3 separate regions of the Homo sapiens genome follow, and regions 1 and 3 are each reported to be linked to region 2. Evidence: microRNA targets listed by miRTarBase, many of them from high-throughput screens and not tested one by one. Region 2 holds a microRNA gene; each other region holds the end of a gene's coding sequence.
Evidence for each region. Region 2 holds the annotated microRNA hsa-miR-4682 (UCUGAGUUCCUGGAGCCUGGUCU, at 2,687-2,709, opposite strand). A microRNA usually pairs through its seed, bases 2 to 8, with sites in the 3' UTR of a target mRNA and lowers its output. Matches are read on the target gene's strand: a 7mer-m8 pairs with bases 2 to 8, a 7mer-A1 pairs with bases 2 to 7 and ends in A, and an 8mer does both.

Region 1: miRTarBase lists CEMIP2 as a target of hsa-miR-4682. Seed matches in the 3' UTR shown: 7mer-m8 at 3,418-3,424 and 7mer-A1 at 2,874-2,880.
Region 3: the mRNA of FUNDC2 is a reported target of hsa-miR-4682. Seed matches in the 3' UTR shown: 7mer-A1 at 1,837-1,843.

The regions. Positions count from the first base shown.
Region 1 is chr9:71,681,257-71,685,491 of GRCh38, forward strand. CEMIP2 (cell migration inducing hyaluronidase 2) reads right to left here. Exons shown (of 24, transcript NM_013390.3): 24 at 2,110-4,137. The coding sequence ends at 3,941. Among named protein-coding and RNA genes, the nearest start is that of CEMIP2, 85 kb to the right of the region's middle.
Region 2 is chr10:119,956,988-119,961,230 of GRCh38, reverse strand. MIR4682 (microRNA 4682) reads right to left here and starts at 2,718; the gene lies at 2,639-2,718.
Region 3 is chrX:155,054,013-155,058,212 of GRCh38, forward strand. It overlaps FUNDC2 (FUN14 domain containing 2), which reads left to right. Exons shown (of 5, transcript NM_023934.4): 5 at 583-4,200. The coding sequence ends at 660. Among named protein-coding and RNA genes, the nearest start is that of CMC4, 15 kb to the right of the region's middle. RefSeq lists enhancers at 3,256-3,757, 3,422-3,716.

The sequences.
Region 1 (4,235 bases), not on the chromosome of region 2:
GCTTGCTATGGCTGATAATTTTGGATGTCCTGTGGGGCACAGTTCCTCATTTAGAAATCACAGTTCAGTCAGTCATTCTCTAAATTTACCACATAAAAATAAAAAGTGTGCGTGCCCTTATCCACAACACCAGGGCCTACTGAAGCATCCTTTTATTAGTTTTTTTCTCAAATTGAAGATAAATAAGGGAAAAACAAAAAAACCTTTTCTCTTCCAAATGACTCAAATGGTCTAGCAAGTCTGTGAACAGCATTTTGCCATTTGTGAGCAAGGAACCAGGAATGGAGTTCCTTTATTTTTTTTCCCTCCATGACCTTTTGTTGAAAACTAGCTTAAATAGTGTCTGCTCACATTTCCAGCACACTGGGTTATAACAGTAATAATGTAATCATAACTAACAGTAATGATACAAATCTGCTGCCCTATTAAAGGTCTTTACCTCCAGGGGAATTTCTCAGGTTATTAAACATTGTTTAATAAGTATCTGGAAACCAAATAAGAATTCCAGAAGTAAGCTCCAACTCTGCATGATGAAATTAACAAACATTGTCATCATTGAATCTATGTATTGTGTTTATCTACTAGGAACAACAGAAAAAAACACTTGAACTAACTAAGCTCATTCCTTCTTACTGAAATGCTTCTCAACCAGACACATCCAAACATGACCTCATCTCTTAAGGAATGAAAACCTACTGTAGTTATCTAAAGCACTCAAGCCTCGATCTGTCACTTCATTACCTTCCCCTCCTCAAGACAAAGTAACCCACTTTAATGGCATGAGGATGTGTTGTCTCTTGATGAAGTTAGAGAACAGAGGAGTCATAAATCCTCTCTTCCCATCCCCGAGTCTAAACATCAGCTTAGAGGCTGCTTTGCAGTCATAGTCCATGAGATGGTGCGTCTGCCTTTCATCTTCTTGCCAGCACTCTCTTCCAGCCTCTGAAGATAATATATGGCATGCTGACTCAGGTGGAGAGGCAGGAATCACAGCAAAGACTTAAACCCTAGTCTGTGGATACATGAGAGCCCTCTGTGTTGCTCGTCAGCTGGCTGATTTGTGGACGACCACATTTTTGGAGCTCAACCAACTGCCTCACCTGATGGAAAATGCTTATGAACTTATAAATCACCTTTGAATATATTTTCTTGGTAGAAATAGAACAGATTGCTAGCTCCCAATTCCCTGAAATGTATATATCAGTGTATAGAACCAATTTAATGATTTGAGAGGACTGAGGACTAAAAACTGTATTAAAAGCTTCTATTAAAAAGAGACAATAGAGAAATGCTTTGTTTAGGGCTGGGAGTTTTGTGAGTAATATAGGAAATGCAAATAAAAATAATAGGTAAATGCAATTTTGTTTTAGTCACAAAAAAATTACAGACTGGAGTTAAACAGTGGGCCTATTATATTAGTGCCGTGGTTCCGAAACCTGGCTGCATATTAGAATCATCCAGGGAGCTTTAAAAAAAATTCCAGTGCTCAGGCTGCACCCAACACCAATTAAATCTGAATCTGGGGGGAAGGGAGTAAAGTCCAGGCCTCTATATTTTTTTTTAAAGCTCCTCAGGTAATTCCAGTGTGCAGCCAAGATGGAGAACCTCTGCCTTGGAGAATACAGTCCCTGCCCTTCTGAAGCTTACTCTTACAATATTTACTTGGTGGATTCTGTCCACCAAGTGTCTTCCTCACTTCCGTCAGTAACTTCTTTACAGCTGGAATCTGGAATTTTAAATTTATAGATAGAGATATAAATTCACATACAGGCCAGGCGCGGTGGCTCATGCCTGTAATGCTAGCACTTTGGGAGGCCAAAGCAGGAGTATCACTTGAGGTCAGGAGTTCAAGACCAGCCTGGCCAACACGGTGAAACCCCACTTCTACTAAAAATACAAAAATTAGCAGTGCATGGTGGCGGGTGCCTGTAATCCCAGCTACTTGGGAGGCTGAGGCAGGAGAATCACTTGAACCTGGGAGGTGGAGGTTGCAGCGAGCTGAGACTGCATCACCTCACTCCAGCCTGGGTGACAGAGCGAGACTCCATCTCAAAAATAATAACAATAATAATAAAATAAATAATAAATAAATTCACATACACACATATATAAAATACATGCACACATATTTTTATTTAACTTAGGCCCTGATTATTAGTATATAAAACAGAAAAACCAAGTGCCTTGGTAATTTACATATCTTCTCCAAATCTTTAAAGAACCAAGCTCTAAAAAACACACGTAAAGATATTTAAGTCATAAAACACACACACACACACACACACACACACACACTCTAATGACCTTCAGGAACCATAATCCAATAATATATTTAATAGGTAAGATCTCATTCATCAATATACAAAAAAAAAAAACAAACCAGAAAACAAAAAACTAACTTTGATTAAGACATGTGCCCTTAGTAAGGGCACTTACAATTAGAAAGGTTTATCGGTAGCACTTTGAGGTAGCATATTTTGTAAAGTCACAGGGCTGCTCTGCAGTTTCTCCTGGATACAAAGGTAGAGGCCATCAGCCTTTGCCCCTAGAAGAGGAAAGTGAAATTATCTGTACTCATTGCCAGTGTCAGCCTGAACACACTTTCTACCACCCACCCTTGGCCATCCCTCCTCTACACTTTATGCGTCGGGGGTTTAGAACAACGTAAAGGCATTTTGCTGCTTCTTTCCTCTTGGTACGGCAGCATCCCAGGCTGTGGAGCCAGTTGCCTCTTGCCGCATGTGATTCACCAGCAGGAGACGCATGCACCCTGTGGAAAGGGAAGCTGGGCATCACAGCATGCTTTTTAATTGGCTTTAACATTTCATTAAGTAAGAGTGACTCATTCCTGCAAGGCTTTAAAGAGGTTCATTTCTGAGTATTCTCTCCACGATTCTGACCCTAGAAAGCGCTCCTTTTTTTCCTCCCTGGGTGTAATCATTTTGGGGTATCATTAAGCTTTCTGGGATTTTCCTGGCAGGAGGGTGAACAGAAAAGCTTTAAAAAATCCACACAAAACAATAACAAAAAACCCAAGTGCAAGAGCAATACCAAGAACAGACTTCCTTTGTGCAAGTTAAAATGATACAAGTTTACGGTTCAGGAAAACAACCTACTTCTTAAAACAAAACAAAACAAAACAAAAAAGGAAATATTCAGTTGAGCTCTGCATTTTAAACACAAATATACAGTCAAAAGAGGCTAAGGATTAAAGCTGCAAAAATGGTCCCAACAGCCTCAGACTTTTGCTGCAGGAAAATTTTTTGCCCAATGGTCACAGATTAAAGGGATATCTAATCCCCAAGAGCCCTTTTGTCCCAATATACTTCCTGTTTGAAAGTTTAACCCTTACAAGTAATTGATATATAAGTGAATAAAAATAGCACATGTCCAGGCAAAAAAGGGCATGAGCTGGGCCTGAGTTGCCACTTAAAACTGTCATTCAATATCATAGAAAATCCTCAAAGGCTGCCCAGAAACAGGGCCCCAGGCACTGCTGAACATGCCAGCCACCAAGTCAACTGCCACCCGACCCAACTGAGCATTAAACTTCAAGTATCCAAGGTGCTACAATAGCTGGTCCTCTAAAGACCTCAGGCTGACTCTCAGAAGCCCCCACTCCACCCCACCCCATTATACAAAAAGTAAAAACATTGCTCATGGTCATTACAAAATACGGGGGTGGAAAGTGAGGAATAAGAGATCTGCTCTCTGAATACACCAGCCTTACAAATACAAACAACGTCTTTAACATTTTGTACAACTAGAAGGTGCATGAAGCTGGTATCCAAGCAATAATTTCAAACGCTTTCTTTTCTCCCCATTCTGTATCAAACTGGAAAATGGTTCCGTTGGGTTAACAGTGTCATTTTAAAATGCCATAAATTAAATAAGTTAGTTCACATTTTTTTTCCCCCAGCACTTAAGTTACAGTTAGTCTCTAATGTGCTTTTGAAGCTTGCTTTAGCAGTTCCAGGTCTCTTCTGCGGACAGTGGTGGCTCTGGGACAACCATATTCGTCCAGCTGCAAAGGTATGAATTGTTCAAGCACCCCAAGGCCCTGTCCAGCAGGACTGGTAAATAGCTTAGTCCATGATGGTTTAAAGTTTCCACTGAATCCCAAAAATATGGTACTCCCTAAAAAAAAAAAAAAAAAAGAAAAAGAAAAAAAATCAATTTTTATAGCTACATTCCAGCAAGAGAATATAGGAGGTGAGTCGGAGGTGAGCAAAACA
Region 2 (4,243 bases):
CTTTAAATGTCTGGTAGACCTTTCTCAACAAATAGATTGAGCATTCTTCTTTACAGCTATACAGTATCCCCTGGTGTGGAGGACTATAATTTATCCAACCATCTCCCATTGATAGACATTGAGGTTATTTACAATCTTCTGCCATTACAAACAATGCTGCATTGAATAATATAGAGAGTTTAAACAACAGGGGGAAATGTAAAAGATAGCGCAGGCATTTCATTATGGGTTTCCCAGTAATTTTTTTTTCCCTGCTGCTGTTTCTTCCTGCTGCATTTTTATTTACCTGAAAGCCCACTGTTGATGCTTTATTGCATTTTGCACCTTGTTCAGGGTCATTTTAGCCATTGGAACTATACAATAAAATAGAAAAATGTACATTTGTGGAAGTCTTGAAAGTTAACAATAACAACTACAAATCTCACACTCATTCAGGGTCTTCTGCAGCCTTGAGCGCTCAGATAGCAGGCTGATGGGGACTGTGCAAGCTCAACACACAGTAACCATCAGATGCAGACACCTCCCTCCTGTCACGGTAGACTAAGAAGCACAGGGTGCACTGGTCAGGCCACTCTTTCCAGAGCTACTGACACCATGAAAGGTACACAGAGATTTTTTTTCACAGTGATCTATAACTCTCAAAAACCCACTGGTGTTTATACCCAAAAGAATTGAAAGCAGAGACTCCATGAGATATTTGTACAACCATTTCTCTTTCTTTCTCCCCTCCTCACCCCTCCCCTCCTTAATAGAGTAAAAACATAAACATTGGCAGCCCCTTGGTTGACATCAGTCTTTCTGTATAAGCAGCCATATGCAGAGCCTTCTCTGATTGAATCATTTTTCTCCATAATCCATTTCTCCACAATCAGAGAAGAGAGTTGTACAGAAAAGATCTCATCATGAGGATGATATTAGTGAAAGTACAAGTTCATCAGGCCCCTACTGAGCCAGGCACTAAGCTAAGCTCCTTACTTTTTCTCATCGAATCCTTATTAAAGCTCTGCAAGGTCAACATTATCTGCATTTTACAGATGAGAAAACTAATGCTCAACAACACCAAGAAAAACAGCTGAAAACTATTAGCACTAATGAGAGAAAGGAGTGGGGCAGATGGACACGCTACCAATGGGAAGTCACCAATACTTTCCTAGGTACGAACAATAACCAACTTGAAATTGTTTTTTAAAAGTCCCACTCAAACAACAACCAAAACCACAAAATATTGGGAAAAGGGCTACAAAAAATCTAGTAGAGAAATGTAAATAGGAGAGGGATTAGGACAAGAGAGAGAGAAGAAATTCACCTTTTACCTGGTGTATCTCTGCATAGTTTGAATTTTTACAATTATTTTTGTAAGAACAAAATCTTAATATAAATGTGAGGTTAAGAAAATTGTCCAGAGTCAATATCTGAAAGCGAATTGGTCTAAATTCAAAGGCTATTCCTGGCCGGGCGTGGTGGTTCACGCCTATAATCCCCGCACTTTGGGAGGTTGAGGCAGGCGGATCACTTGAGATCAGGAGTTTGAGACCAGCTTGGCCAATATGGCGAAACCCCATCTCTACTAAAAATACAAAAAATTAGCCGGGTGCGGCGGCGCACGGCTGTGGTCCCAGCTACCCTGGAGGCTGAGGCGTGAGAATCGCTTGAACCTAGGAGGCAGAGGTTGCAGTGAGCCGAGATCGCACCACCACACTCCAACCTGGGCAACAGAGCAAGACTCTGTCTCTAAATAAACAAACAAACAAAGGCCATTCCTTTATGTTCTGCCATCCTAGAATCCACCCAAGAAGACTGCTGGCTGGTGCCACGTGTCATCCTGAGAGGATGCACACGTTAGAAGGACATTTTTGGATTACAAAGCCAGAAGGAAAAGACTTGGTTGGATGTCTCCTTCCATAAAGAGACATTGTGGGCGTTTTCTGTTTGCTTTTGCATTTTGTTTTTGTTTCGCTTTGTTTGTTTGTTTTAGGACAGAGTCTCGCTCTGTTGTCCAGGCTGGAGTGCAGTGGCGCGATCTCGGCTCACTGCAAGCTCCGCCTCCCGGGTTCAAGCGATTATCCTGCCTCAGCCTCCCGAGTAGCTGGGACTACAGGCGCCGGCCACCATGCCCGGCTAATTTTTTGTATTTTTAGTAGAGACGGGGTTTCACCGTGTTAGCCAGGATGGTCTCATCTCCTGACCTCGTGATCCGCCCGCCTCGGCCAAAGTGCTGGGATTACAGGCGTGAGCCACCGCACCCGGCCGTGTGTGTGTTTGTTTTCTAAGGATCATCATCAAAATAAAAACACAAAATCCACATTCCCGTGGGGGCTTAGTGACCCACCCGCATGCAGCGTTCAGTCTCGTGTGAACAGAATCGCTATAGACGACTCCCTGATTTAGGAACTTTTCGAGCCAGGGTAACCGTGTGTACCTGGGGCAAGGGTGATGGGATTGTGCTTTAAGTGAATGGCGCCCCTTGGACCACAGCTCAATGCAGAGCTACTGCTCTGGGCTCAGTTTCCCGCCTGGTTTCCCCTGAGCCTTTTTCTGTGTCGAGCCCCCAAGTACTGGCCCTTTGACTTGGATTCAGTTTTCCCCCTGCCTAGGATCCTTCAGTGACACTGTCCACCTTCACCCTGCTCGTGACTTCTGCGTCCCCTGGGCACTGAGCCTTGGAGCTCTGGACTTCCCCAGTGACAGACCAGGCTCCAGGAACTCAGACCAGGGGCAGCACTTCAGGCCTCCACGTTCTTGAGGGCTCCAGGCAGTTTCCTGAGGGTGCTTCAGAAAAAAAAAAACCATCACTTGCCTCCAGAGGCTCACATTCCCTTGGGAGACTCCCTCTCACTTTAGCCCTAGTATCCTTCCAAATCCTGGGCACTTTACAAGGCCCCATGGCAATGCATGCGTGGCCCGGAACTCCCAGTCAATTGGCACTTGTGCTCTCTCTCTCACTCATTCTCTCCCTCCCTCCTTCCTTCATGCTATGCTGTTCCCCACACCAAGATTTCTAGCCCACTAGGCATGCACGTCTCTTGTATCAATTCATTTTCTTTTTTTTTTTTTTGAGACGGAGTCCTGCTCTGTCACCCAGGCTGGAGTGCAGTGGCGTGATCTCGGCTCACTGCAACCTCCGCCTCCTGGGTTCAAGAGATTCTCCTGCCTCAGTCTCCCAAGCAACTGGGACTACAGGCACGCGCCACCACATCTGGCTAATTTTTTTTTTTTTTTTTTTTTTTTTTTTGTATTTTTAGTATAGACAGTGTTTCACGATGTGGCCAGGCTGTTCTCAATCTCCTGATCTCAGGTGATCCGCCCGTCTCGGCCTCCCAAAGTGCTAGGATTATAGGCGTGAGCTATTGTGCCCAGCCCATTTTTCATATAGCAAATTCCTCCATGCAGTGGAGTTTCTCTAACAATATAATAACATGCATTTGTAAAGCACTCTTGCATACCTTCATTTGGCCCTTTCATGTGATCTGTCCAAATAAGCCATCTACACAATAACTTGGATAATAATACCTAGCATTCTTGAGCACTGACTGTGTTCCAGATAATGAGCTAATAAGCACCTTATTACCCTCAAACCGCCTTCGGAGGTTATTATTATCCACGTTTCATAAATGAGGACACATGCTCAAGGGCTGGTAAGTAACTCTTCCAACGTCACACAGCTAGTAGGTAATGCAGCCTGGATTCAAAGCCAGGTTTATAGACCTTGGAGTTCTTTCTGTTACACTGTAGCTCAGGTAAACATGTGACTATATTTACAAATGCCAATACATGGTGAAGGGGGAAACAGAAAAGCTATAAAAATCAATAGTGAATTCAGAAGCACATACATCTGGACAAATGATCTTCCCCTCCTCCCTGGAAATGAGGAAGTCCCTGTATTACAATGATCAATGCCATTTACTCAGCATCTCCTCGGTGCCAGTCCTAAGGGCTTCATGTGTAATTTTTCTTACTAGATGTGTGATGGTAATCAAGTCTCCTGACTTCCCTTACTCCCAATTTTGTCCTGTAGAATAAGATGACAATGTCTGCTCCTGTGGCTGTTATGAGAGGTGATGGAGATGAAGCATGAATAGCACTCGGGACTGGGAGGAGCAGCAATCATGACTGTCCTGAGGACTGTGATCAGGGTCAGAAAACATTCTATATGGACCTTCCTGGGAGGGAGGCAGCCTTCCCAGAAGCACCCCACCCCCACTAGCCAGCTGTCTCCCCAACAGCACCAGCCAGGACTGAGTAT
Region 3 (4,200 bases), not on the chromosome of region 2:
CTTTGGGAACTTAAGGAAATAAGAACGTCACCTGTTAATCATCTTAGATGTGGTGAAGTGTGAGAATGAGAATTTATAGCATCTACCTGGGAGCAGGTTTCAGGGGGGAATGCATGGATGGAGAGATTTAGGGGAGAGACTTCAGGAAATGAGAAGCCTCTATTGGAGGGTAGATGCCAAAGAGGATGGAAGGAGCAAAATTGGAAACAGAATTGCCTCTGTAACCAGTTTATTTAGTGCAGCTTTACTCTTTCGCCATAACTGTCCCCATGAACTCTCCTTCTTTGTCCTTGATTCAAAGAGCCATTGTCTCTACCTCCTGATGTGCATCCTCCTTCCCATCAGGCTCCCTCTAGTCTTATTCTCCCCACACCAGCCAGTAGTCATTTTCATATGTAAGTCTATTTAATTATTATTAAATAGACTATTAGTGTAAGTCCATTGCCCTTTGGGTAAAGTGCAAATTACGTAACCGATGAGGGGATTGACATTGTTAAGACTGGCATAGGTATAATAGAGATGATTCTTAATATTATTAACATCCTTAGCAAAACAACCCATTGTACTATCTTCTGTTTTCAGGTGGTGTCATTTGTGAAGAAGAATGTTCTAGTAACTGGGGGATTTTTCGGAGGCTTTCTGCTTGGCATGGCATCCTAAGGAAGATGACCTCATGTTCATTGTTCCTGGTTTTTTCCAGCCAGCAGCCTCTACACTCCATCATAGGACATCGAGTCCCTCCTCCTCTTCTCCCATGCCTTCTTCCCTGCCATGGCAAATCTGAGTGGCTTCTCTAAGCATCTGCTGGTACAAGTCAATGTGGCACCATGAGCTTCATGGTGGCAGAAGAGACAATAGTCCTTAGCTCTCCTCCCAGTACACCCCCTACTTGGCCAGTCTGTAGGCCAACAAGAAGGTTCCTTTACCCCCATGCAAGACACTTATGAGAACACATTACAAGATGGCTGACCGTGGAGGATGAGTGGATCCTGAAAGGTTGTCCCAAACTGTTGATTTGGAAAAGAAATAAGCACATAGATAACCTTATTGTGTGCTGCATGGAAAGGAACTGAATACATTTGCCTTTAAGCATGAAAGATTTTGGTATCTTGGTGTCTACTTTCTTTTTTAGTTGGTTTTACATTACAGAAAGCTATTTAAATGTGTTATAATTATGCCGACAAAATTGGCAGCATAATTACTGTAATTGAAAAATCTGATATTGTCCAGGAATGCTTTCTACCGTACAGGATAATGTATCTCATGGCTGTTTCCAAAGGGTTTATTTATTGTAAAACAAGTGATTTAGGTGGGAAAGGGAAGATTTTGGATTTTTATTTTGTAGAAAAGGTTTTAAGCTTTGAAATGTGAATGAAATATCCTTATCAAAACATTAGGGGTGGCCATAACTCCTCTGTGCCACTTCTACTATTTTTTTTTTTAATCTAGTTAGTATGAAATACAACATTTAAACCGGAATTTTAAAGAAGTAGCTTTCCAGGGATTCAGAATTAAGAAAGATAGTGATAGGACATGAGAAATAAATTTCCATCAAGTGTAATCTACCGTCTCATGATGACCACAACCCTGAGAATTATTCTTTAAAAGCTTACACACACACACACACACGGGCACACACGCACACACAGAATCTTACCACATTTTGCTGTAGTGGCATGTTACCATGTCTACAGTCCCTACTAGAATATCAGTCAGCTTTCAGAGGGCAAGACTTCTGTCTTCACCATTATACTCACAGGGCCTAGCACTTAATAGGTGCTGAGTATTTGAATAATGACTTTATAGAAAGAAAACTCACTATTAAAGGTTAGTTTTACTCAGAATTGTTAATCTTGGAGATGATCTCTTGTGAAATATGAGTGTGTTTCTAAGGCCATACATTTAAAAATGTTTGCATTTTAACCCGTCTTGAGAATGATGTATTGAATTTGAAAATCAAAACTACCAGTGGATGTGTGGAACTTTACAGAAACCACCTATTTGCGTTTTTCTCCTTACATTTAAGGAAACATAAGCCATTTTGCTTGCAATATGTATGAATCATCTCAAAACCATAATGGTATGAGCCTCTTTGCTGCATATTTTGCTATAAGAACTTATTTTTTTTCACTTTTTATTATGGACGCTTTCAGGAATATATAAAAGTAGAGAATATAGTACAATAATCCCCCTGTGTATCTATCACTCACTCACAACAATCATCAAATTATAGCTCTGCTGGTTTTTACCAGTTATTGTGAAACAAATATCAAAATGTCATTTTATCATATTTCAGTATGTATCTCTAAAAGGTAAGAATTATTTCTAAAAATCATAAATACCTCATCATATCAGACATTAACAGTAATTACATAATATCCAAAATCTGATCAGTGTTCAAAATTTCCTCAAGTGTTTTATATTTAGTTTGTTTGAATCAAAATTCATGCAAGGTTCACATCGTATTTGCATGATTTGGATAAGTCTCTTAACCTTATAGATCCTCCTCTATTTTTTTTTTTTTGCTTGCTATATATTTATATCTCTATATATATTGATATAGACATATGTAGTGACACTGAGTCATCTGTTTCCTGCTTCCCCACACTCTGCCTCTCCTGACATCTGGGTCTCTGGGTTATGCCATATATGGTGATAGTGGCTGCAGCCACTTTACCTGTGTGACTTACCCACAGCAATGGGATGGTAACAGCAAAGCTAACCAAAGTGCTCTGTGCCCCTTTGGGTTGCATGTGGGGAGACTGGCCACCCAATGCCTCTCCAGTGGGGTAGGGGTTGTCTTTTGGTGCATCTGTTTTTCCTGTGATTATTGGTGAGGGCAGCAAAGATTAGCAGGTGGTTGTAAACTACCTTGAGTAGGTTGTAATAAATAGTCTGGCCTCAGACTGTATTCTGATTGTCTGAATTAAGATCTGTAGGTAGGTCCCTCCTGAAGTTTTTTCCCAGCTGGCTGCCTCTACGACTGTGAGGGTCATGGTTGAGGTCAGTATTGCAGGTTGGCCTCATCCTGCTAGTATGAGAACGGCTGTGAGTTCTGCCCACGGTGTGAGGCCACTGTGACCACTTGGGATTGTGCAGAGCTGGCATGGAGGTTGAACACGCACAGCTGCACACCTTGTTTTCAGTTTAGCTGAACCATCGGTGAAGGAGGCTCAGGCATTTGGGGTTACCTGTGAATCAAGGCCCTATTGTGCCAGCAGTTTTGTTTCAGGTGGTGAAGTGGGAGTTAAGGTTTCCCCCAAAAGAACAGCTGCCACTCCTCCATGCAAAACCGAGATGATTCAAGGACCAGGCAGCTCCACCTTTCAGTGCACTACTTTCATTTGACTGGAGAGGCCTGCTTAGCTAGGCACGTATTTTCTCCAGTAGCAGAGTCCAATGACGCTCTGGACTTCCTAATTAGTGGTGGTGGGGCGGAAGTTTTTCCTTGGGAAGAGCGTTGTCGCTGTATATGGTCCGCAGAAACTTGACTTGGAATGTGTTCGGGGTTTCATCGCCCCCTTGTGGCGGCGACGTGGTAACACCGCACTCAAGGCTTCCAACTTGTCAACCAATAGGATGGCATCTACGTAGTGAAGGCTTCCCTTCCCTTGTCCTGCAGCGTGCTGGACAGTGTCCCGGCTCAGGGACCCCTTCTGTCCCCTTCCTGGCTACTATGGGTCGGCCCTGCGTCCTCACCACTTTGAGCCACCCTTTGACCCAGCGTCTCTCCCGCAATGGGACCTGGTGGGATGGGGACTTGGAGCATGCTACAGGAGAGGTAGAACTTTTGAGTCTCTTCTTCCCAAGGTTCTCCCCAGAGTCGGAGAGCAGAGACGGATCCAGGGGCACTTTCTGGCCGCTGCCTGCTCGGGCTCAACAGATGGAGTCCAATGTTTCAGTCTCCCCCAAGAATGTGTATCCTCATTGCTGACACGGGAGCTGGGTGCGGGGAGAGATGTGGTGGTGGGGACCCTTGCCTGAGCAGCCCATTGTCATGAGTGTTATTGCCATTGTGATAATATGTTAGCATGACTCTCCTCCCAAATGGCCGCTTGTTTGTTGCAATCTCCCGCCACTCAGCCTCCAGACATTCATTAACAGGACAGTGGGGTTCTTGACTCCCCTACCACTGGGGTGACAGTCCTTGCTACTGGATCTGGGCAGTTACTGTCTCATGGATGCTGGCAGAAGACGATT